Linked DNA regions of Homo sapiens. The protein of the gene in region 1 interacts with the protein of each later gene in a biochemical or structural test. Each region holds a gene or a part of one and is shown on either strand. Other genes may lie near its edges. The genes, in order: RAB26 and ADRA2B.

Region 1 (10,853 bases):
CTCGCAGCCTCCAGGGGCACCCCCTCACCACCCCCCTGCCCTGACTCACCTTGGCCAGCTTCTCCCCGTCCTCCCTCTTCACCACACGCTCATGGGCAGAGTCCACCTGGCCCAGGCACAGGGTCTTGGTGAAAGCTGGCCCATGGTTGGCCCCTGCCCCCTCACCTGCCCTGCCCTGTGGCCCAGGTGAGGACAGCCGGGCCTCCCACCTTGTTCCCCAGCAGCATGAGCGCCACGTCGTGCTGGGCGTACTCGTGGATCTCGGTCAGCCAGGCCTGTGGGAGGCAGCAGACCAGGCTGGGGCTCCCTGCATGGCTTGCCCCATGCCCCAGAACTTTGGCCCTCCAGGTCACACTGTAGAGGGCACCTGTCTTTATCTTTTTTTTTTTTTTTTTTTTTTTGAGACAAGAGTCTCGCCCTGTTTCCCAGGCTGGAGTGCAATGGCTCCATCTCGACTCACTGCAGTCTCCATCTCCTGGGTTCAAGCTATTCTCCTGGGGTTCAGAGAACCTTGGGAGGGTTCAGCCTCCCAAGTGACTGGGATTACAGTTACGCACCACCACGCCCAGCTAATTTTTTGTATCTTTAGTAGAGACGGGGTTTCACCATGTTGATCAGGCTGGTCTCCAACTCCTGACCTCGTGATCCGCCCACCTCAGCCTCCCAAGGTGGTGGGATTACAGGTGTGAGCCACCATGCCCAGCCCATTTTATTTTTTTGAGACAGTTTTGCTCTGTTGTCCAGGCTGGAGTGCCGTAGCACAGTCTTGGCTCACTGCAACCTCAGTCTCCTGAGTAGCTGGGATTACAGGTGTGTGCCAAAACGCCCGGCTAATTTTTGTATTTTTAGTAGAGATGGGGTTTCCTCATGTTGGCCAGGCTGGTCTCGAACTCCTGACCTCAGGTGAGCCGCCATGCCTGGCCAGGATACCTGTCTTTAGAAGTGATAACCCCCCGTGTACCACATACAGAAGCCCACCTTACAGGTCCCTTACACAAAGCCTCCTGCTGAGGGAGCTGGAATGGCACTCAGGTCCACTTGGGCCACCTCCAGCCCAGAAGGCTGTCATTTCCCCCTCCCCTCTCTCAGCGGGGTCCTTTGGAACCCTGATGCCATCTACCAGAAGGAGGTTGGGATGGGTCAGGCCCTATCAGGGCCCTTTCACCCCACCAGGAAAGCCACTGACCTGGATGTTGTCAAAGGAGGCCTTGTTGGTGACATCGTAGAGCAGCAGCAGAGCTGGGGACAGAGGGCAGTGAGGACATCCACCATCACCTGCACCCTCAGGTGCTCAGACCCCCGCCCCAACCAGCCCAGGTACCCAGGGGCTCACCATGAGCATCCCGGTAGTAGGCATGGGTAACACTGCGGAACCGCTCCTGACCAGCTGTGTCCCACATCTGCAGCGACAGGCACTGGTCAGGCTGTCCAGCCCTTCCCTGGTGTCCCCTGTCCCCCAACTTGTCCTCTGCCAGTCACCTTACCTGCAGCTTCACCTTCACACCATCCACGTCCAGAACTTTGTTCTGAAACAGACAGAACCAGGCAGCTCTGGCATGGGCCCAGCCCAGCCTCTGGTCCCACTAGCTTCACTGCCTTCCTGTCCCCTGAGACCTCCCAGCTCCCAGGTCCAGCCCAGCCCCTGCAGGCTTCCCTTAAGCCAATTTGACCTCACCCACACCTGCAAGTGCAGGCCTCTCCCGGCAGCCTCTGCACTATTCCTGCTTAGAGCCTCTTACGCTGACTTATTTGAACTCATGACCCCACCAGGCCTCTTACTGACACTGCCTCGGTTTCCTCATCTGCAAATGGGTGCAGTAACTAACGAGCTGCAACGCCTCAGCCTTCCCAGTAGCTCTTTTTGCTAATTTGAAAGACTCAGGATGGCTTGAACCCAGAAGTTGGAGGTTGCAGTCCACCATGATCACCACTGCACTCCAGCCAGGGCGACAGAGTGAGACCCTGCTTCAAAAGAATAAAAAATTAAAGCCACTCCTTGCTGGGATTGTCAGGGCTGGGCCTGGGCCTGTCTGACCCAAGGCAGTAACCGCAGATCCCAGAACTGCCTGGCAGCGTCCCCAGCCGGGCCCTCCCAGTTAACGATTAGACGTAAGGCAGGGAGTGGTCTAGCCCCAGTCCCATCTGTTGGGGTGGGGGCGGGGGGCTTCAGCCGCAGTCTGAGGCCCTGGGCAGCTGGAACCTGTGCCACCTCCTTCAGCCTGAGCTCCTGCTGTCAGAGTGCTTCTGGGTCTCCCGGGAACCAGGCAGGGCCATCTGCTGGGCTGGGGAGGACACCGCCTTCCCTGGCACCCTGAACGAGAGTGCGAACCAAATGGCCTCACCTCTTACCACCTGCCCGAGAGCCAAGAGGGAGGTGGGGAAGTGGGGACCAGACAGGACTGGCCTGCCCCCCTCGGGCACTTCAGTCGTCACTCCATCCCAGAGGACTTGAGGGGACTTGGAACCCCCAGACTGGAGGGAGCCCCTTTTCCTGTCCCTGGAACAGCCCTTCCTCCATCCTCCCTCTAACTGGCTCTAATTAAAGGGTGAGAAAAATGCAAATTTAAGATTTGCTGAGGACAAGCCGGCACCTCAGCACGAGGAATTCCAGCTGGTGGGGGTGGGGGTGGGCGCTCCTCACCCAAGAGCAGGGTCCTCTCCCCTAGGCAAGCCCTGGAAACCCTCGCTCAGGCTCTGCAGGGAGCATGTGCTTCTAGGGCCCAGTAAGGCCTCTGTACCGAGGCAGCACTGCTGGCCCCAAGTGGACGTGGCCCTTGACTTCCTCTGACCCACCACCCTGTAGGCAACAGTGTCCGCCTCCCCCAAGGCACAGGATATGGTCCCTCGGTAATGCCAGCCCCTGGCATAGGGCAACTAACTATGCTTGTCGGGTGCAGCCACCAGCCCAGGTGTTGGAAGGTCGAGGCAGGCAGCTTCTGGGGTCCAGGCCTCGAGCCTGTTGGTACCATGGGGATCAGAGAGAACTTGCTGCTCGGGTACCGGCGGGACTCTGATGTGGGGCCAGGCCAGGGCCTCCACTCACCCGGAAGTCAATGCCTACGGTGGAGATGAAGGTCCCCGCCAGGAAAGCACCATCCTTGAATCGCACCAGCAGACAGGTCTTCCCCACACCCGAGTCCCCCACCAGCATGACCTAGGACAAGCAGGAGGGTTGGGGGGAGTCTGGTCTGCCCTGAGCTGGCCTGGTCAGAAGGGGGCTGCAGGTGAGGAGCAGGAGTGGAGGGAGGCAGCCCAGGCCTGCAGGCTCAGCGGGGCCAGGGACCCCGATGGGCTGGACACCCAGCGTATGCCTCTGAAAGGCTGGGGCTGCTCTGTCCTTCTGCACAGTGGCCGTCTCAGTCAGCGGGGAGTGAGGGCAGCCACCTGCATCCCGGACCCTCCCTAACGTCCATACCCCCACACGGTGGACAGCATCTGGGAGGGGAGCAGGTGGGGTGGCAGCTGGGTACCTCCTAAGAGACTTGGGGAGGCCTCTGCCGGGGGCTTCTCCACATCCCAGTAGGGACATGACCCCAGCAAGGCTCGAGGAATTTGCCCCATTAGGATCAGATCTCGATCTGAAGAGGGACCTGGGCCAAGTCTGAGGTTGGGGGGAGGTGCAAGTGGGCAGCAGTCAGGCCTTCTCCCCGAAACCTGTGCTACCAAACCCAAAATGGTCCTCCCAGCCCCCTGCCAAGTCCACACAGCCTCTGCCTTGGTCTGGAGTCCCAGGGTTCCCCATCCATCTGGCAAACCTCTTCCCCCCAGCAAAAAAAAAAAAAAAAAAAAAAGGCCCACAGCCGCTGGGTTGAGGGAGGGCAGCATACGGGAAATGGTGAGACCCCGGGCGGGGGCCAGGGCACTGGGGCGCGGGACCCCTTGTGCCACCATGCCGCCTGGGGGGTGGGGGACAGGCCCTGCCAGCTGTTGGATACCCCAGACCTGGGATGGACAGCTGTGTGTGCACGATGCACCGTGCAAGCCCCACGGGGTTCCTCCCGCGTCGGCTCCGCGCCCTGGGGCCGCGGGCCCTGCACCCCCTGTCCGACCCCCAACCCTTGGCTCAGGCCGGGCGCCACCTGCTGCGCTGGCCTGGGGGGCGGGTGCCTGGCTCACCTTGAAGGCGACGTCGTAGAAGTCGACACCGCCGCCAAGCGAGGGCCGGCCGGGCTGCAAGGGCCCGTTGGGCGGCGCGTCGGGGCCGGAAAGCGCAGTCCCGGAGCGCGCCGGTCGGGCCCCGTTGGCGGTGGGCAGCGTGGAGGCAGCGGGGGTGCTGGCCCCTTTGCTCTTGGGGGTCTTCTTCCTGGACATGGCGGGCGGGCGCTCAGTGTGCTCCCGCTGCAGCCGCCGTGCCCTGGGCCGTCCCGCACCCCGCGCCCGCCGAGCCCGACCCGGACCCGAACCCTTCCCCTGGCGGCGGCGGCGGCGGCGGCGGCGGCGGCGGCATCATCCCGGGCGCCCGGCTCGCGCCCCGCCCCCGCCGCTCCACGGGCGCGCAGCCACTCAGGCCCGGCCTCCCGCCGCCGCCGCCAATGCCGTGCGTGGGGCGGGGACATGCAAATACACCCCCGCTCGGCGGGGGGTGGGGGGCGGTCAGGAGGTCCGGGCCCCGTCCCGCCCCCGATCACGACCCCTGCCCGTGGCTGCCTTGGGGCCAGGAGCCAGCTGTGGGGTGACAGGCCTGGGCCAGGAGTCACCCCGGGATCCTGAATCCCCTCTGCTGGCTGCACACCACCCCAGCTCGGTGACCCCCAAACTGGACCGCCAGACCTGGGAGGAAGGGGTGTCCTGAGATGTGGGTGCTGGGGCAGAGGGCCCGCATGGACGGGCACCGCGGGCTTCTGTCTCCTTAGCCCCAGATGCCTAGCGCTTGGCCCGGTGCCCTTCACTGCTCCATCCCCTCCAGGGTAGGCGGGTCCAGGAAGCTCCAGCCCTGGCTTGGCAAACACACCAGGCTGCTGGGGCAGGCGCCCTGGGCTCAGGTGACAGCTGGTCACCGGGAGGACACAGCGGGCGCTGCGATCTCCCCCACAGCTTCTGCCTGCTGTGCACGCCTGGGGATCTGCGGGAAGGAGGAAGTCGCTGTGGCAGCCAGCCCCCGGCCCCCTGAGGGTCCCCTCCCACGGGACTCTGCCCTCAGGGTCTGAAAGGTGGAAAGCAGAGGCCCCTGCCCAGGCTGTGTGGCTGGCCCCTTGTCCTTCTCCTCCAGGTTCGGACCTTCAGGTGGCCAGGGCCGATTCTCCAAATCCTAAGCTGGTCCCTGGCAGACCCACCTCCCCAACCTGGGCTGCACTGGAGCTCTGTCACCCCCTCTCACAGAGAAGATGGGACTGCAGTGGTCAGAGCTGGGGCACAGTGGTCCAGAGGGGTGGTGTCCTTGGCATGCAGGGGCTTCTTGGTGTTTCTTTGGGAGCTGGAGAGATGACCCAGCTGTCCCCGGAGACCTGACAGCTGTCACCAGGACCTTGGGCCCTTCAGAGACCTGAGCCCTCCCAGCTGGCAGTGCCCAGAGTCCAAACAATTGGCTGCCTCTCGGGTCAGAGGCCTGAGAAAACACAGATGGGGGGCACTGCCCAGCAGAGTGATTCCTCGAGAGGGCCTGGCAGAGGCCGTGGAAGCCTGCCCTACAGCAAGCACTGTTGTGTGCCAGGCACACGACCTCTTCAAAGTTATCCTGCAAGGTGGGTACTGCCCTCAGTGTCCAGATGGGGAAACCGAGGCCCAGAAAGGCAAGGAGCCTGTGCAAGGTCAGCAGGCTAGGAAGGGCAGAGCTAGGATTTGTTCCTGTGATCTCCAGCTCCAGAGAACATAAACCGTCCCATGGCAGAAATCCCTGTAGACTTAATCCCCAGGAACCTGGCAGAGCTGGGGGTCAAACCCGGAAGCCCTCTCAGAACCCTTCCTTGTCTCACTCCTCTGGCCCCCCAGCTCTTCCAGACCAACCCCCAGTGTGTGTGCACTGGGCCTGGGTAGAGGCATTTAGCTTCTGCAGCTGCAGCCCTGGGGACTCCAGGTGTCCACCCGCGCTACAAGGCCTCTTTCAGGATGGCTGGCCCAGGGTCTGAGCTGGGGGCCTCAGCAGCTGCTGTGCACTGGCCCCAGGGTCCTGGGCAGTGGACTCCCAGTCCAGTGGACCCCGTCCTGCCAGCTGCTGCTCAGGTACCCCCAGGGCGCGGGCAGCAGGAGGAGTTGGGTGCAAGTAGGGCATCCTGCAGGGGGAGGAGTGCGGATGGGGCCCCCAGGAAGAGAAGGAGGCAGGCGCGCTGGAGAAAGTGGGAGGCCAGGCGGGGAGGGGAGCCTTGAGAGAGCAGAGGAAACGGGCTTGCGCTGGCAACCTTTAAAATTAGGAGAGTTTACATAAAAATCCAAGTCTCTGGTTTCTCTTGAAAATGGGGAGCTCTGGGTGCCTGCATCACAGACCCCTCTCTTGGCTTCCAGCAGGCCTCGGAATCTTTGATCATTATGTCTCTTGGTTGCTGTGTTTGCCATCTGTTTCACCCTCTGGAGTGTAAGCTCTCCGGGCACAGGAAGCAGCTTGTCTTGGTCAACTGCTGTCCCCAGCAGCCAGCTCTGGGCCTCCATAAGCAGTTATTAAATTGGTGAAAGAGGTGTGGTGGCTCACGCCTGTAATCCCAGCACTTTGGGAGGCTGAGCAGGCAGATCACTTGAGGCCAGGAGTTTGAGACCAGCCTGGCCAACATGGTGAAACCCCGTCTCTACTAAAAATACAAAAATTAGCTGGGCCTGGTGGCATACGCCTGTAATCCCAGCTACTCGGGAGGCTGAGGCAGGAGAATCGCTTGACCCCAGGAGGAGGAGGTTGCAGTGAGCTGAGATTGTGCTGTTGCATTCCAGCCTGGGTGACAGAGCGAGACTCTGGGGAAAAAAAAAAGAAAGAAAAGAAAAGAGAAAGAAATGTGACTTAGAAACACAGGCCTCACTTCAGGAGGACATGTCCTTGCTAACAAAGATTTAAGGCAAGTGTGATCAGTAGTGAGGGCAAGGCTTCTGGGGGAGGGAGGGTTTGCACTGGGCTTTGAGGATTGAGCTAGAGTCCGACACGAGAGAGAAAGACAGTCCCCAGGTGGAGGGAGTCAATATGCATAGGCTGAGAGTGCTAGGAGATGGGCACTTTGTGCCGAGGTGGCCAAAGTGTGGCCCAGTTCCTTGGAGGAAACGGGAGGTAATCAAGCTGGTAAGGTAGGATGGGGTCAGCTGGGAAGGGAAACCTGAGTGTTATTCCTAGGAGCTTGGAAATTGTACAGCGGGAAGTAGAGAGCTGTGCGTGGCTTTTGAGCAGAACAACAGAGGACGCTGTGCTACAGGAATATTGGGGACTGGCAGGAGGGGATGGATGGTGGAGCCTGTAGGCCTGGAGATGAGATTGATGGGGGTTGCAGTCACCCAGGGGAGGGATAATAGGAACAGAGAGGACCTTCAGGAAAGAAGCTGTAGGCCTGGAGGCAGGGAGGGGAGGGTCAGAGTCCATGCCCATGGGCAGAGACCAGTGGGATGCTGCAGTGGGTTAAAGATGGATTAAACCCCAGCACTTTGGGAGGCCGGGGCGGGCGGATCACCTGAGATCGGGAGTTCGAGACCAGCCTGGCCAACATGGAGAAACCCCGTCTCTACTAAAAATACAAAATTAGCCAGGTGTGGTGGCGGGCGCCTGTAGTCCCAGCTACTCAGGAGGCTGAGGCAGGAGAATCGCTTGAACCCAGGAGGCGGAGGTTGTGGTGAGCCGAGATCGCGCCATCGTACTCCAGCCTGGGCGACAAGAGCGAAACTTGGTCTCCACAAAAAAAAAAAAAAAAAAGGCCGGGCGCGGTGGCTCACGCCTGTAATCCCAGCAGCACTTTGGGAGGCCGAGGCAGGCAGACCACGAGGTCAGGAGATCAAGACCATCCTGGCTAACACAGTGAAACCCTGTCTCTACTAAAAATACAAAAAATTAGCCGGGTGTGGTGGCGGGCGCCTGTAGTCCCAGCTACTCGGGAGGCTGCGGCAGCAGAATGGCGTGAACCCGGGAGGTGGAACTTGCAGTGAGCGGAGATCGCACCACCACACTCCAGCCTGGGCGACGGAACAAGACTCCATCTCAAAAAACAACAACAACAACAACAAATAAAACTAGAAAAACTAGAACAGGCAGCCAGCGAGGGCAAGGCGGGGGCCGGCGAGGGCAAGGCGGGGGCCGGCGAGGGCAAGGCGGGGGCCGGCATGGTGGGAAAGTTCAGCAGGGAGGCCTTGGGATGTCCGGATTCTTGGCATCTTCAGACCTGGAGAAGAGAGGAGTCCTGTGGGCCAGGGCAGGTCCCTGAGACAGGGTCCGAGTTTGAGATGGGCCCTGGGAGCTGGGGGCGGAGAGTGAGGTCCGTGTTCCCCTGGGAGGGGTGCTACAGCCCCCCACCCTTCTGGTGCAGAGCTGGCTCTTCCAGGGAGGGGAAGGTCTCCACGGGTTCCTGTCCTCGAGCGGAGAGAGCGCCCTGGGTCTCCTTGGGGCCTTGCTCTGGGACTTTCGCTCCTGTTACCTTCTGACGGCCCGGCCCCCTGGCATCCTTACACCGTGCCCTCTAACTCCTGCCAGTTCCTTCTGACCGTCCTGGGTGTCTGGAAGGATGTGTGCTGTGAGCCCCCAGCCAAAACGACCCCTGGGAGCCATGGATCAGGACAGTCTCTTTCTGGCCCCCATTTTCCAGCCTCTTCCCTACACTCTGCCCCCAGAGTGGGGCCCTCGGGCTGGCCCTTGTGTGCCAGGAGAGGGGGCGCAGGCACGAGTGAGGCCTCCTCAGGCTTCCAGACTCTGCCTGGAGCCCCACCCTCAAGGGAGCCTGCCCTGGCTCCTCCTGCCCCACTTCTGGCTCCCTGGATGCTCTCCAGCCCTTCCCCAGCGGCTGCATGGCCGCTGTAGCAGCCTGGGAGCCTCCTGAGGACAGGGCCCTGTCCTGCCTACTCCTGTTCCCGCCAGGCACTCGAGCGAGAGCTCTGTGGCTGAGCAGCAGAGAGCTGGGTTGGACTTCAAGGGGCTCTTAGCAAGCCAGGGAGTGGCAAAGCCGCCACGGCCTGTGCCCCCAGGGCACCTCCCAAGACCCTCCTCTGGAGCTCAGCGGTCTGTGCCCTCCGCGGGGTCCCCGGCTTGCTATGTGCCCCTGGGCACGTGGCATTCCCTGTCTGGGCCTGCTCCCCTCTCCATGAAATGAGGGGGCAGGAGGAGCCGATCTCTGAGGTCCCTTCCAGCTCAAACACCTTATGTTCTATGAAATCCGTGTGAACGTTGCCATGGAGACGTTGGAGGAACTGCGGCAGCACTGAACGCAACTTCCACCCGAGAGAGGAGCACTGAGTCACCCCAGCACGTGGGTGACATCACAGGTAAGCTCTCTCCGGTGTCCAGGTGTGCAGCAGTCTGGTGTCCTCCTGAGAGGTCACCCCCCTTCAGCCTGCTCACCATGGTGGCCCTGAGGCCCTACCGGGTGGGTCGGGACAAACAGGTGTCCATCCCTGCCCGAATGGGGACCCTTTGTCTGTTGCCTGCAGACGTGACCACAGTGACTCAGGTGCTCCCAGACGGGAAGGCAGCAGAGGTGATCTGCCACACAGAAGATGAGCTAACGGGGGAGTCATGTGCGCCTCTGTGGCTGTCAGAGCAGTATCCTCACTCCTACGGAGCCAGTTGCCTGCTCTCAGCAGTGCTGGCTTCCTGCGCCTGAGCTGAGTGAGGGTGTCCGCTTAGCCATTGGAGGAGGCAGCATCAGGGCTCCTGGCTGCAGGCTCTCCCGGCAGCCTCAGAGTGACACACATGGCCTCACGGCAGGTGCAGGGATCCCTGTCGATGAACAAAACAGACCCCTGCGTAACCGTAACAATCACTGACTACCCCGGACTGCACCAAGTGCTTTCCTTGCAACGTTTCTCTCTTTTTTTTTTTGAGATGGAGTCTTGCTGTGTCACTCAGGCTGGAGTGCAATGGCGCCATCTCGATCTCGGCTCACTACAACCTCTGCCTCCCAGGTTCAGGCAATTCTCCTGCCTCAGCCTTCCGAGTAGCTGGGATTACAAGTGTCCACCACCACGCCCGGCTAATTTTTGTATTTTAGTAGAGACAGGGTTTCACCATGTTGGCCAGGCTGGTCTTGAACTCCTAACCTCAGGTGATCCACCCGCCTCGGCCTCCCAAAGTGCTGGGATTACAGGTGCCCACCACCACGCCTGGCTAATTGTTTTTTTTTTTTTTTTTTTTTTTTGAGACGGAGTCTGGCTCTCGCCCAGGCTGGAGTACAATGGTGCGATCTCGGCTCACTGCAAGTTCCACCTCCCGGGTTCACACCATTCTCCTGCCTCAGCCTCCCGAGTAGCTGGGACTACAGGTGCCCGGCACCACACCCGGCTAATTTTTGTTTTTGTATTTTAGTTGAGACAGGGTTTCACCGTGTTAGCCAGGATGGTCTGGATCTTCTGACCTCGTGATTCACCTGCCTCGGCTTCCCAAAGTGCTGGGATTACAGGCGTGAGCCACCGCACCCTGCCCTTTTTTTTTTTTTTTTTTTTTTGAGATAGGGTCTCACTCTGTTACCCAGACTGAAGTGCAGTGGTGCGGTTCCGACTCACTGTAGCCTTGAACTCTTGGGTTCAAGCAATCTTCCCACTTCAGTCTCCCAGCAATTTTTTAGTTTTTTTTATAGAGATGGGGGACTCACTATTGTCCAGGCTGGTCTTGAACTCCTGGGCTCAAGGGATCCTCCCGCCTTAGCCTCCCAAGATGTTGGGATTACAGGCGTCAGCCACCGCGCCCAGCCTTGTTTTGTAAGAGTCTAAATTAAATCACAATTATCTGATTCTTCCACATTTGATAG
Region 2 (11,312 bases), on another chromosome or scaffold:
GGCATGAAGAAAGCATCCAGGGTGCCAATGAGTGGGCCTAGGCCAGAGGCCCCTCAGTCCCCAAGGGTACTGTTTTGGTGGCCTTTCAGAGGGTCAAGGAAGCCCTGCTTGGGGTAGAAGGGGCAGGAGCCCCACATGTTGGGGGAGGAAATAAAGTGGAGTGTGCTGTGCTGACCTTCCCACCTCCTGTGTGCCTTTAACACCCCTTGCCCTCTGGGGCCCCAGGTGGCTATCCCACCTCCCAGGGAAGACAAAGACTTCAGCGAGTGCTCCAGGGGTCCTGGCCAAGAAGCAGCAGGGCAGGGCTGAAGCTTGGAGTTCCCAAGTTCTGGGGAGAGGTTGCTGTTTGCCAGCCTTCTGGAGGGTCACGTGCTGGGGCCGCATTGAGGACATGGGGATGCACTCAGGGGACACTGTGTCCTCTACCTTCAGTCGGCCTTGGGTTTCAGTCATGAGTCATGAACCCTGAGACTGAACAGTGGCCCAGTCCCAGGCATTAGCACAAGGGAAGGACTGCAGGGAGGTGCTGTTCTTCCTCTTGCTCCTGGCTGGGGGAGTGGGGTCTGCGTGAGTGTAGAGTGGATAGGGGCTCTGGCCATGCCCCAAGGAGTAGGGGACAGCCCCGCTGGGAGGCTTCCAGGCAGAGACCTTGAGGCAGCCCTAGGACAGAGGCAGTACATGCAGTGCCCCATTTATCAAGGACAGTAGAGAGGCTTGCACTCCTCTCGGCCTCTGCTGTTGGGTGGAAGGAGGTGCTGTGCTTCGTACCCAGGGAGGACCCTGGGGCTCGGGCCACCCGTCACCAGCCTCCATTGGGATTTGTCTCTTGGTCTCCGATCTTGTTCTCTTGAAGATGCCACTTGTCTGAGCCTGGTGGCTTAAGGGGAGCACAGGGACAAGGTTCAGTCGTTTGAGCCCCAGCCTGGGTGGTGGGAGGGGTACAGGGCCCTGGGGTGTAAACCAAGCCCAGGCGGCTAGCCATCCCCTCCCAGGGGTCTGTGGCTTGTTCACCTCCCCAGTCACCGACCATGCAGCTGTGTAGGCTCAATTTGTTCACTCATCCAACATACCAGGTAGGCAGTCTCTGTTCTGCTGGGAATAGCAGTGAGCAAGGTGGGTTCCTCTTCTCGTGGAGCTTATTCAGGGTGGGGAGGGTTGGACAATAAGTCAGCAAACCAGAAAACATCTGGCATTGGCAAATGATGGCAGAGCAGAGCACCCCCTTAGGCTGCTGGTTAGGAAGGGCCCCTCTGAGGATGTGACATTTCAGCCTAGCCCTAAATGGCAGGAGGCTGCCTGTGAAAATTCAGGAACTGAATTTCCTGAATTCCTGAGTAGCCAGTGCAAAGGCCCTGAGGCAGGGGAAAGCAAGGTGTGTTGGGTCTGTGTAACTGGCATGGGGAGGGGCCCACAGCCAAGTCAGAGATGGGGAGGGTTTTATTCCACAAGCAACAGGCAGCAACTACTGGAAGGTTTGAAGGAAGATGGTGCCACATCCGACTTAAGGTTTAAAACGTCCTCGATGCATTCTGGAGAATGGGCTGGAAGCAGAACAGCCGGGAAGCCACTGAGGTTATGCAAGGGAGAGAGGCTACAGAGATGGACAGGAGCAGGTGCCTTTGGAGTGTTTAGGGGTCACAGTGGCCCCACTTGTGATTGCATGCATGGGGTGAGGGCACAGGCTCTGGGTGGGAGCTGCACCATTCACTGAGAATCCAGCACTGAGGACCTCGGGGCAAGGCAGGGCTGGGGGAAATGGGTATGTCAGGTCTGAGGTGTCCATGCGACATCAAAGGGGTCAGAGAGTAGGTGGGCTGAAGGAGTCTGGGGTTCAGCGGGGAGAGCAGGGCAGGAGGTGCCTGGGGGAGTGCTGTCGAATCTGGAGGGGAGCCACACGTGTAGAGGAAGAGGAAGGATCCCCGGACTGAGCTGGGTTGCTGCATTTAGAGCAGCATTTCTTAATTTCAGCGTTGCAGCATTTTGTACCTGGTAATTCTTTATTGTGGGGACGGCCCTGAACCTTGCAGGACATTTGGCAGCATCTTTGGCTTCTACCCACAGATGCCAATAGCGGCCCCCTCCCTGTATTCCAGACATTGCCGAACGTCCTTTAGAGGAGGAGAATCACTCTTAGCAAGAACCTCTGACTTAAGAGTTTGGGAGAAGAAAGGGCTGCAGAGGAGTGGCTTTCAAGGCGGTCACAGACCCTGTGAGTGTTCCAGGGGAAGGGCTGCTGTGCCAAGTGCTGCTGAGAAAGAGGGCAGAATAAGCCTGGTGCTTGGTGATGTGGAGTAGGGCATGACCCACAGAAGACCCTCGGTGGAGGGTCTGAAGATGACCTGCCGGGGGTTAAGGAGAGAATGTGAGGGGTCAGCCACAGTGCCTGGATACAGACACGGGGGGAAGGTGGCTATGGGAGGCAGCAGAAAGGTGATGGGGCTTGGGGGGCAGTTCTAAGGGGTGGGGCTGGCTTTGTAGAGTAGGGGCAGTGACCATAAGAGGGGGATAACTGAAGCGGGGGAACCCTGGGGTGAGATGAGAGGGGTTGGGCTCTAGGGCATAGGTTGAGGACTTGCCCTTCAATCAGCAGAGAGAGTTTGAGGCCAGATGCAGGTGGGCGGCGGGGGTGAGTTCCTGCCTGGACTTCCGTTTCCCCCTAAGTACCAGGCAGAGTCACAGCATGGTGGGGCGGAGGAGTGGCTGGGAGGTTGGAGAGGGAGGGAGGGATGCCGATTTTAACAAGTGGGAAAGTGAGCATACTAGGGAAGTTTGGAGATTTGTGGTCATGAATTTAGAGTGAGGCCAGTCGATGCAGAGAGTGTTTTGCTCCGGAAAGAGCAGCTGCTTGGTCAAAGGCAGGCAGTGGGTGGATGATTTAGGTTTGACCAGAGCTGGGGTTTTGTCAAGATCTTTATGCAGAGAGGACGACTGACTTCTATTATAGAGGACACGACCCAAGGATCTGGGAAGTGGGGAGGTTGGGGCATACAGGATGGTCTGGGGTTAAGAGTCCCAGGGACTGAAAGGCTGGTGGGGGGCGGGGTACATCTGGAGAAAGGTGGGGTGTGTGGCCTGATGGGGGTCTGTCCCAGTGGGCCCTTAGGGGAGGGAAGGCACCGTTGTGAGCTGCTGGAGCCCCAGCCCAGGAGATCTGGTGGCACCATCTCACCTCTCAGGCCTGGAGAAGTGTCTCCATGGCTTCCAACTAAGGTCTCACAGCCAGCAATGGGACAACAGTCTTGCCCTTCTTTGGAAAAGGTGGATCGCTTCCATGGCTAGGTCCTTTCCCCATGGCCCCTCTTCCCAAGGACATCCCTCCAGGGCACCCTCATTTGGGCTATCTGTCTTAGAATGCTCATGTGTATGAGTGCACTGTTGCCTGCTGCCACTGTCCCTCACGGCCAATGACCTTGTGCCAGGTACTGGGGACAGAGAAGGGATGTCCACTCTGATGGGCAGAGGTGATGCAACAAACCCATCAGAGAGCATCTTAGTACAGTGTGCTGAGTGTGAAAGTGGTGCCGCCTGGCGTCGAGGAACCTGGAGAATGGAGGTCCTCCCTCTGCCTGAGAGCCTGGTGACTGGTGAGTGGGCCTTGAAATGTGAGTAGGAGCCCACCAAACACAGAAGGAAGGGTGATAGGGCATCTCTATCAGAGCAAACAGCCCCAGGGAAGGTCTAGAGAGTGGAGACCCAGGGCACATTCAGAATCCAACACTGGCCTGGCGGGGCAGGGATGGAGGGCTGGGATCCAGGTTGTGCCCTGCTGCCCACTCCCCTGCTATGTGTCTGGGAAAGCTCCGGCTGCTCCTGCTGCTGGCTGTTGCTGGTCTGGGACTGAACTATGCCCGTTCCTGTGGAACAGGATGACAGTGGAAGGTCAGGTCTAGTTTGGGAAGAGCTGAAGGAAGCCTTGCTATGCTAGTAGGCTCCAATTCCTGCACCTGGCAGCCTCATGGGGCTGGTTGGAGCAGGCAAGGCCTGAAGGTGTGTGTGTGCGGGGGGAGATGGTGAGCCGCCGAGAGGAGCAGGAGCTGAGTTATGTTATGGCCTGCGTGGCCGTGGAGAGCTGGCGCACCCACGCTGCACTTGTCCATCCTGGGGTGGAGCCAGGAGGAGACAGCTGCAGTAGACGGTGACAGCCTGGGGCAGCGGTATGGATGCCAAGGCAGCTCCTGCTGCCCGGAGGGCACACATCTCCCAGGTCTGCCAGCTGTAGACTCTGTCCCTGGCTGTCCCCACCTGGCCTAGTGCCTAGCTGGCCCAATGAAAGATGCCTAGCAAGGCTTGGCACTCAGTAGACCCAAAGTTGTCACTTCTAGGAAGGCCCAGGTAAGCGTCCTCAGTGGGGACTTGCAGGGTGGGGAGGGCACACGGGCAACCCAGTCTCAGCTCCTGCAGCATCCCTTGAAGGAAGATGGGTCAGAAGACAAAGGCTGATGCTGGCTGCAGAGTCTGGGGAGCTGCTCACTGGCCCCCAGCCCAAGTGTGGTTGGAGACAGTGGAAAGGCGGTTCCTCCCGATGCCCATGTGGGCCTCTAGCAGGCCCAGACTGTGAAGGCCTTGGGAGCCCCTGGATAGGCAGGCACCTGCCTAAGTAGCTGCTCCCAGGCTCTCATGGCCACCCTCTGTCCTTCCTCAGGGAAAGAGCTACTGGCATCTCTCCATCACTGGTTATGTATGCCCAGGCGGCGCCCAGGCCCTGCCCAGCCCAGAGGGTGGGAAAGACACATCCAGGAAACTGTGTCTAGCAGAGTGGTCGGTTTTGAGCTGAAGCCTAGGGTTGGGGGTGGGAAGGAGGCTGATTGCCCTGTCCGAACCCAGCCCTGGCAGCATCCACCCCATGGGCTGTGGGCACTTGCACCTCACCAGAAGCTGGGGAGTCTGGCAGAATGACAGGGATGGGGGGATCAAGGAGGCACCTACTCCCAACACACCCCCGTGGCTGGGGGTGCTGGTCTGGGTACCTGAGACGGGGCACCTCCCACCTGAGCCTGGGGAGGCGCTAGACATTGTCCGTGGGCACTGAGAGGCCACGTGCTCTGCTCCCATGGAGGGAGCAGGGAGGAGAGGAGGTCCAGCAGGTTGGACGGGGCCTGGGGGAGCCCCACTGTCAGAGGTGGATTGGTGCTTATTTATACAGAGGATGCCTTGCAGAGTCGTGGGCTGTGAATAAGAGGCCTGGCTCGAGGCGGGGCTTATGACATTAGGGGCTCCAGAACCGGGGAAACATGCCCTCAGGGCTGCCCAGGCTGGTGCTGGTGGCGGTGTGGCAGGGAGAGTGAGTTGGGGCCCTGAGGGAGAACAGTTGCTCATAGCGCTTTGAAGGCGAGTGGGGGGCCTTAGTCTGAAGTTTCTTTTTACCCCAACCCTCTTTCCACTGTCACCCCCAGAAGGGCTTCAGTGTGTATGTGGGGCAGGACCGCAGCAGGGAGGGAGGGTCAACCCCTTCCCCCGGGGTCACTACAGAAGCGGAGGGACGCTCCTCTCTTCACGGCTGCCCCTGAGACCTGCTTTTTCTCGGAGCTGTGTGACAAAGTCCCCACCCTTTACTCCCCCACGGCAAGGAAGGGACCTCCCCTTCGCATTAGTCAAGGGGCGGCAGCTCGCCCTGTGCCCCGTACAAACCCTTGGCTGAATCGCAGTTGATGCTGTGATTCGAGTCCAAGCCAGTTTCCCTGTTACCTCCTTTGCCCTTAATGGAGGAAACTGAGGCAGCTGCGGAGACACAAGAAGCCGAAGTCCTAAGACCCAGGCTGCGAGCGCTGGCTCCGGGACCCGGGCTGCCGCTGACGGGCTGGGCCCGCGGGCGGCAGCAGGGGGCGCTCGCAGGCCGGGACGCGCCCTCCTCGCGCGGCGCTGGCCCGACGGAGCTGGTCCGCGAGGGGCAGCGCCTGGGAAAGGGTCGGGACCGGCTCCCCGCTCCCCGCTCCCCCACCTCTCCGCAGGGCGTCTCCACGGCCGAGCCGGGCGGGGTTGTGGTGTATTGCGACCCGGCGCCCCAGCCCCACGCCCGCCCTGCCCTCCCTGCGGGCTCCCGAGCGGCGGAAGGCAGAGCAGGGCGCACCGGCGCCGGGCCCAGCCCGGTTCCCCCGGGAGAAGTGTCCCGTCCCGGTGCCGGCCCGCGCGCTAGCTCCGCGTCCCGGCTCCCGGCACCCACCGACCCCTCCACAGCTGCGCGCGTCCTGCCTGGGGGCCGGAGACCCCGGCCGCCGGGCCCCTCCGCTCTCCCGAGGCGCGGCCGCCGGGAGGAAGGCAGGTAGAGGCGCTGGGCGGGGTCCGGGCGCGGGAAGTCCCGGGCTCACGCCTCCCGCGAAGCGCACCTTCAGCCCACCTCGGTCCGCCCACCGCCCCGCCTCCCGCCCGCTCCCGCGCCCGCCTCCAGTCTCCGCCTTCCTCCAGCCGCTCTCCCCGCTCCCCACTCCCCTGCAGGCGCGGCTGGGGCGAAAGCCTGCGAGCTGAGCGGGCGCAAGGTCCTCCGCGCCTCCTTTAAGAACCGGCCCAGCCCGGCCCGCGCCCCCAGAGCGTACGGCATCCGCGTGGCGGGAGGGCGCGACTTTCTCCGGTCCCGGGCGGGACGGGGACGGCGGCGGGACAACTTGGGAAACTTCTCTGGGGCGGACGGCAGGGACCCCGGGCACCGGTGGAGGAGGATGTAGGAGGGCGGCTGCTGGTCCTGGGTGTTCCCGACCTCCTAGGCCCCGCTCGTCCAGGCCATGGGGCTCCAGCGCCCTCGGCGCCGCCCGAGGGGCGACGCTCTTGTCTAGCCGAGCCGGGCAGCGCTGTCGTCCACGGTGCGCACTGGGCGGGCAGCGCTCCCTCTGCCCACCTCCCGCCCCGTCATGGACCACCAGGACCCCTACTCCGTGCAGGCCACAGCGGCCATAGCGGCGGCCATCACCTTCCTCATTCTCTTTACCATCTTCGGCAACGCTCTGGTCATCCTGGCTGTGTTGACCAGCCGCTCGCTGCGCGCCCCTCAGAACCTGTTCCTGGTGTCGCTGGCCGCCGCCGACATCCTGGTGGCCACGCTCATCATCCCTTTCTCGCTGGCCAACGAGCTGCTGGGCTACTGGTACTTCCGGCGCACGTGGTGCGAGGTGTACCTGGCGCTCGACGTGCTCTTCTGCACCTCGTCCATCGTGCACCTGTGCGCCATCAGCCTGGACCGCTACTGGGCCGTGAGCCGCGCGCTGGAGTACAACTCCAAGCGCACCCCGCGCCGCATCAAGTGCATCATCCTCACTGTGTGGCTCATCGCCGCCGTCATCTCGCTGCCGCCCCTCATCTACAAGGGCGACCAGGGCCCCCAGCCGCGCGGGCGCCCCCAGTGCAAGCTCAACCAGGAGGCCTGGTACATCCTGGCCTCCAGCATCGGATCTTTCTTTGCTCCTTGCCTCATCATGATCCTTGTCTACCTGCGCATCTACCTGATCGCCAAACGCAGCAACCGCAGAGGTCCCAGGGCCAAGGGGGGGCCTGGGCAGGGTGAGTCCAAGCAGCCCCGACCCGACCATGGTGGGGCTTTGGCCTCAGCCAAACTGCCAGCCCTGGCCTCTGTGGCTTCTGCCAGAGAGGTCAACGGACACTCGAAGTCCACTGGGGAGAAGGAGGAGGGGGAGACCCCTGAAGATACTGGGACCCGGGCCTTGCCACCCAGTTGGGCTGCCCTTCCCAACTCAGGCCAGGGCCAGAAGGAGGGTGTTTGTGGGGCATCTCCAGAGGATGAAGCTGAAGAGGAGGAAGAGGAGGAGGAGGAGGAGGAAGAGTGTGAACCCCAGGCAGTGCCAGTGTCTCCGGCCTCAGCTTGCAGCCCCCCGCTGCAGCAGCCACAGGGCTCCCGGGTGCTGGCCACCCTACGTGGCCAGGTGCTCCTGGGCAGGGGCGTGGGTGCTATAGGTGGGCAGTGGTGGCGTCGACGGGCGCAGCTGACCCGGGAGAAGCGCTTCACCTTCGTGCTGGCTGTGGTCATTGGCGTTTTTGTGCTCTGCTGGTTCCCCTTCTTCTTCAGCTACAGCCTGGGAGCCATCTGCCCGAAGCACTGCAAGGTGCCCCATGGCCTCTTCCAGTTCTTCTTCTGGATCGGCTACTGCAACAGCTCACTGAACCCTGTTATCTACACCATCTTCAACCAGGACTTCCGCCGTGCCTTCCGGAGGATCCTGTGCCGCCCGTGGACCCAGACGGCCTGGTGAGCCCGCCTGCGCTGCCCCTGTGGGGTTGGTGCGGTGGCGCCGGGGTCACCCTGCTTCTTGCCCTGCTGTGTGTGGCTGCCTCCCCTGGGCTTTCTGCTCCCTGCCCAGATCCTGTAGGCCTCATCTTAGGAACCCCTTGGGAGGGGTGGGCAGGGGGGCTGCTAGCAAGGGTCCCAGTGAAGCTTCCCCTTGCCGGCTTAGCTGTGGGGGACCCCTTCTCCACCCTCTCCCTGAGCACAGGCCGATGGAGGTGGTTCAAATCCTCTGGAACATAGCCAAGACCAGGAGAAGAGAGAGCACTTTCTTCCCAGAGCCCCATGCTCTCCAGACCAATGTCTGGGCTTCCCTTTCTTGAGGACCTTGTGTTCCTGGCAGGTCACTTGCTTGTGGTGTTTTCGTTTCTTTTTCATCTCCCCCCCACCCACAAAGAGCACGGAGCCAGCCTTCCACTTTTCCCAGTGGGGCCTGCTGCTGAGGGGGAGGAAGAAACGAAGACTGATCACCCACGCTAGGCACTCGCGGTCCCTGGCAGGCGCTGGGATGGGGGCTTATGGGGTGGCATCGTCTCTGGGCCCTCCTTTCCCCCTTTGCCTGTTTTCGGATCTGTGGTTCCTTTGAAAGCCAGAACAATGGATCGGCTTCCTTACCCAGCACCCCTCCGGTAGGTGGGTGGCCACGTGGATGCCTCGCTGGGGCGGTCTTGGAGGCCTGGTCTCTGCCTCGACGGGAGATCCCCGATCACTGGCATTCACCCCCTGCAAAAATCGGGGCGACAATAGCTCACTGCCTACTTGCTGCAGGGAGATGAAAGGCTTTGCAGAAAGCTTTGAGCTCTGTGGGGGAACACACTAGAGAACCAAAAATGTGATTATATGGTGATATAAAAATCCCTTTCCTCTGTGTTTACCACCACCTGTCTTCCTGTAGACTTTTGTTCTGTCCCTGGGGTGTGTGAATTCCTACCCCGAACTGGAAGCCGGGAGTGGCAGACAGAATCACTATTTCAAGTTAAAGGATCTCTTTGAGAATGTGTTCTTCTGGCTGCAAAGGTCTGAGTTATTACGCTACATGACAACGTTTCGACATTTCACCGGCAACACCAAGAGGGTTTTTAGTGGCTTGGGTCTCCCCAGTGGGGGATAAGTCTTTTGTCATCAAGGAGGCAAATTGTCTCCCCAAGACAGCTCAAAATATCCACACCTCGGCAACAGTCTAAGATGAGAGCCTGTGACAGGTGGCAGCGCCCCCAGGTGGGGTACTGGCATCAGAGCCTGGTGCGCCCCTAGGGGAGCCTCCCACTGGAGTGCCCGGCCAGGTCTCCAAGCCCCAAATGAGTCCTTGTGAACCACAACTGATCCCCCCAGGTGGGTGCTTGTGGACTGCCTCGGACCCAGCCACGCTGCTCCCCGCAATGCTGATGGGGCTGTGCATTGAGGACCCCTGCTTCCTGGTTCTCAGTCCCACCCCAAAACCTGGCACCCAGAACAGTTGGAAGTGTGGAAAGGAGGTTTATCGGCCTTCCCTTGGAGAGGGCCTGGCTTCAACATTGGGCCAGTAGGCATCTTAGCTTGGCAGGTGTCGGGGGAATGGGCCAGATGGACCTGCTAGATTTGGAAGGGCACCGAGGGAGTTTTCTGGGTGTAGAGAGAATGGAGGGGACCAAAAAGAGTCCTTCCTGGGGTGTGGGAGGCTTCCCAGCTTGGTCCTCAGTGGGTTGTTGAGGCCAGAGTATCGCCCTGGGATGTGGTGGGGAGCTGGGCCAGGAGAGGGACTGACTGTGACCCTCTGCTGGCCGGTCTTGTGTGCGCCCCATGGGACCCCCAGTGTTCTTGCCTGTGACCTCTTATTGCGACATGCAGGTGGTGTTTTTTTTTTTTTTAAACTCTGAGCTATTTTATCAATAAAGGATATTTTGTAATAAGTAAGTGGTGTCCTTGTTGCCCAAAGGCTGCCTGGAGCAGTTATTCCTCAGCTGCTGGCACAGCAGACTCTGGGTGCTGGCCTAATGACCTGGGGCTCCCTCCCAGGGCCAGTAGTCCTCTCCTCCCCGAGATGTGGCTGGCTGGTTCCCCCAAGCCCCTGCCCTTCCTACCCGCCTTTGTCCACAAAGCATCCTTACTCATCATCACAAGCCAATGGGTGAGGGTGGCTGGAGGAGCCTGAGACTGGCTCCCTGGGAGGGAAAAAAAGGGAGGGTTTTCTGGAGGAGGTGGCCTTTGGGTTGGGTCTTGGAGGAAGAGAAGGAGTACACCAAGAAGCAAGATGGGAGGGTGTTTTGGGTAGGGGGAAGGGCATGTGTAAAGGATGTGATTGGTGGATTTGTGGCTGGGTTTGAAAACAGCCCCAAGCTAGCCCCGGGTGGTCTGGTGCCACAGCCTTCCTGCCCTACTTAGTGGCCACAGAGTGGGCAGTCCCTGGAGCCTGAACCAGGTGGGCCTGCTCCCATGGGCAGGGGGGCAGATGGCAGGCTGGCAGCAGGAGGCCGTGGGCAGGGCCAGTGCCAGTGGCCAGCCCAGGGAGGGGAGGGAGGAAGGAGGACACGTGAAGCCCCAGGGTCCTCAGTGTGAGGCCACCCCTCTACTTCCACATTGGCCCAGAATCTTCACTCTCACCACCTCCATACTGGCGTGGGCCATGCTTCTGCTAGGGACAACCAGCGAGACCTCCAGTGTACCCACCATCACTGACAGACACGGGGACATGGGCTTTGCTGAGGACTTAACAAGAAAGACATGCCCTGCCCTGCTCTCAGCTTCCCACACCTGCCGAAGCACCCACTGCTGACACCCAGAGGCCTGATGTGGGTGATGAGGATGGTTCATTGACTCCCTTTTACTGATCCAGGCTCTTCTGGTTTTGTCTGATGACCTCATTTAATCCTTATGCCTGACTGTAAGGTAAGTATCAGCCCCTTTTATACTAGAGAAATGCAGGCTGAGAAAGCTGTAATGACCTGTTTGAGGTCATCCAGGCCCAGGCTCTTTCTGCTGACCACATTGTCCCCAGTGCTTAAGCGTCTGCAAGGGGCAGGCCCTTGAGCCTGGGAGTAGAGAACCCTGCCCTGACTCTGGAAATGGTGGTGGAAAGGTACCCCTCCTAGAGCAGGACTGTTTGCAA

The links.
Region 2: the proteins of RAB26 (region 1) and ADRA2B form a complex in vitro, tested with the Homo sapiens proteins (one study listed by IntAct).

What each region holds. Positions count from the first base shown.
Region 1 is NC_000016.10:2,142,242-2,153,094, reverse strand, and holds the start of RAB26 (ras-related protein Rab-26), read right to left. Parts: upstream 4,471-10,853; 5' UTR 4,312-4,470; coding exon 4,117-4,311; intron 3,155-4,116; coding exon 3,044-3,154; intron 1,527-3,043; coding exon 1,485-1,526; intron 1,401-1,484; coding exon 1,334-1,400; intron 1,240-1,333; coding exon 1,187-1,239; intron 276-1,186; coding exon 210-275; intron 107-209; coding exon 50-106; intron 1-49. UniProt on the Homo sapiens protein: The small GTPases Rab are key regulators of intracellular membrane trafficking, from the formation of transport vesicles to their fusion with membranes.
Region 2 is NC_000002.12:96,111,680-96,122,991, reverse strand, and holds ADRA2B (alpha-2B adrenergic receptor), read left to right. Parts: upstream 1-6,420; 5' UTR 6,421-6,842; coding exon 6,843-8,195; 3' UTR 8,196-10,116; downstream 10,117-11,312. UniProt on the Homo sapiens protein: Alpha-2 adrenergic receptors mediate the catecholamine-induced inhibition of adenylate cyclase through the action of G proteins.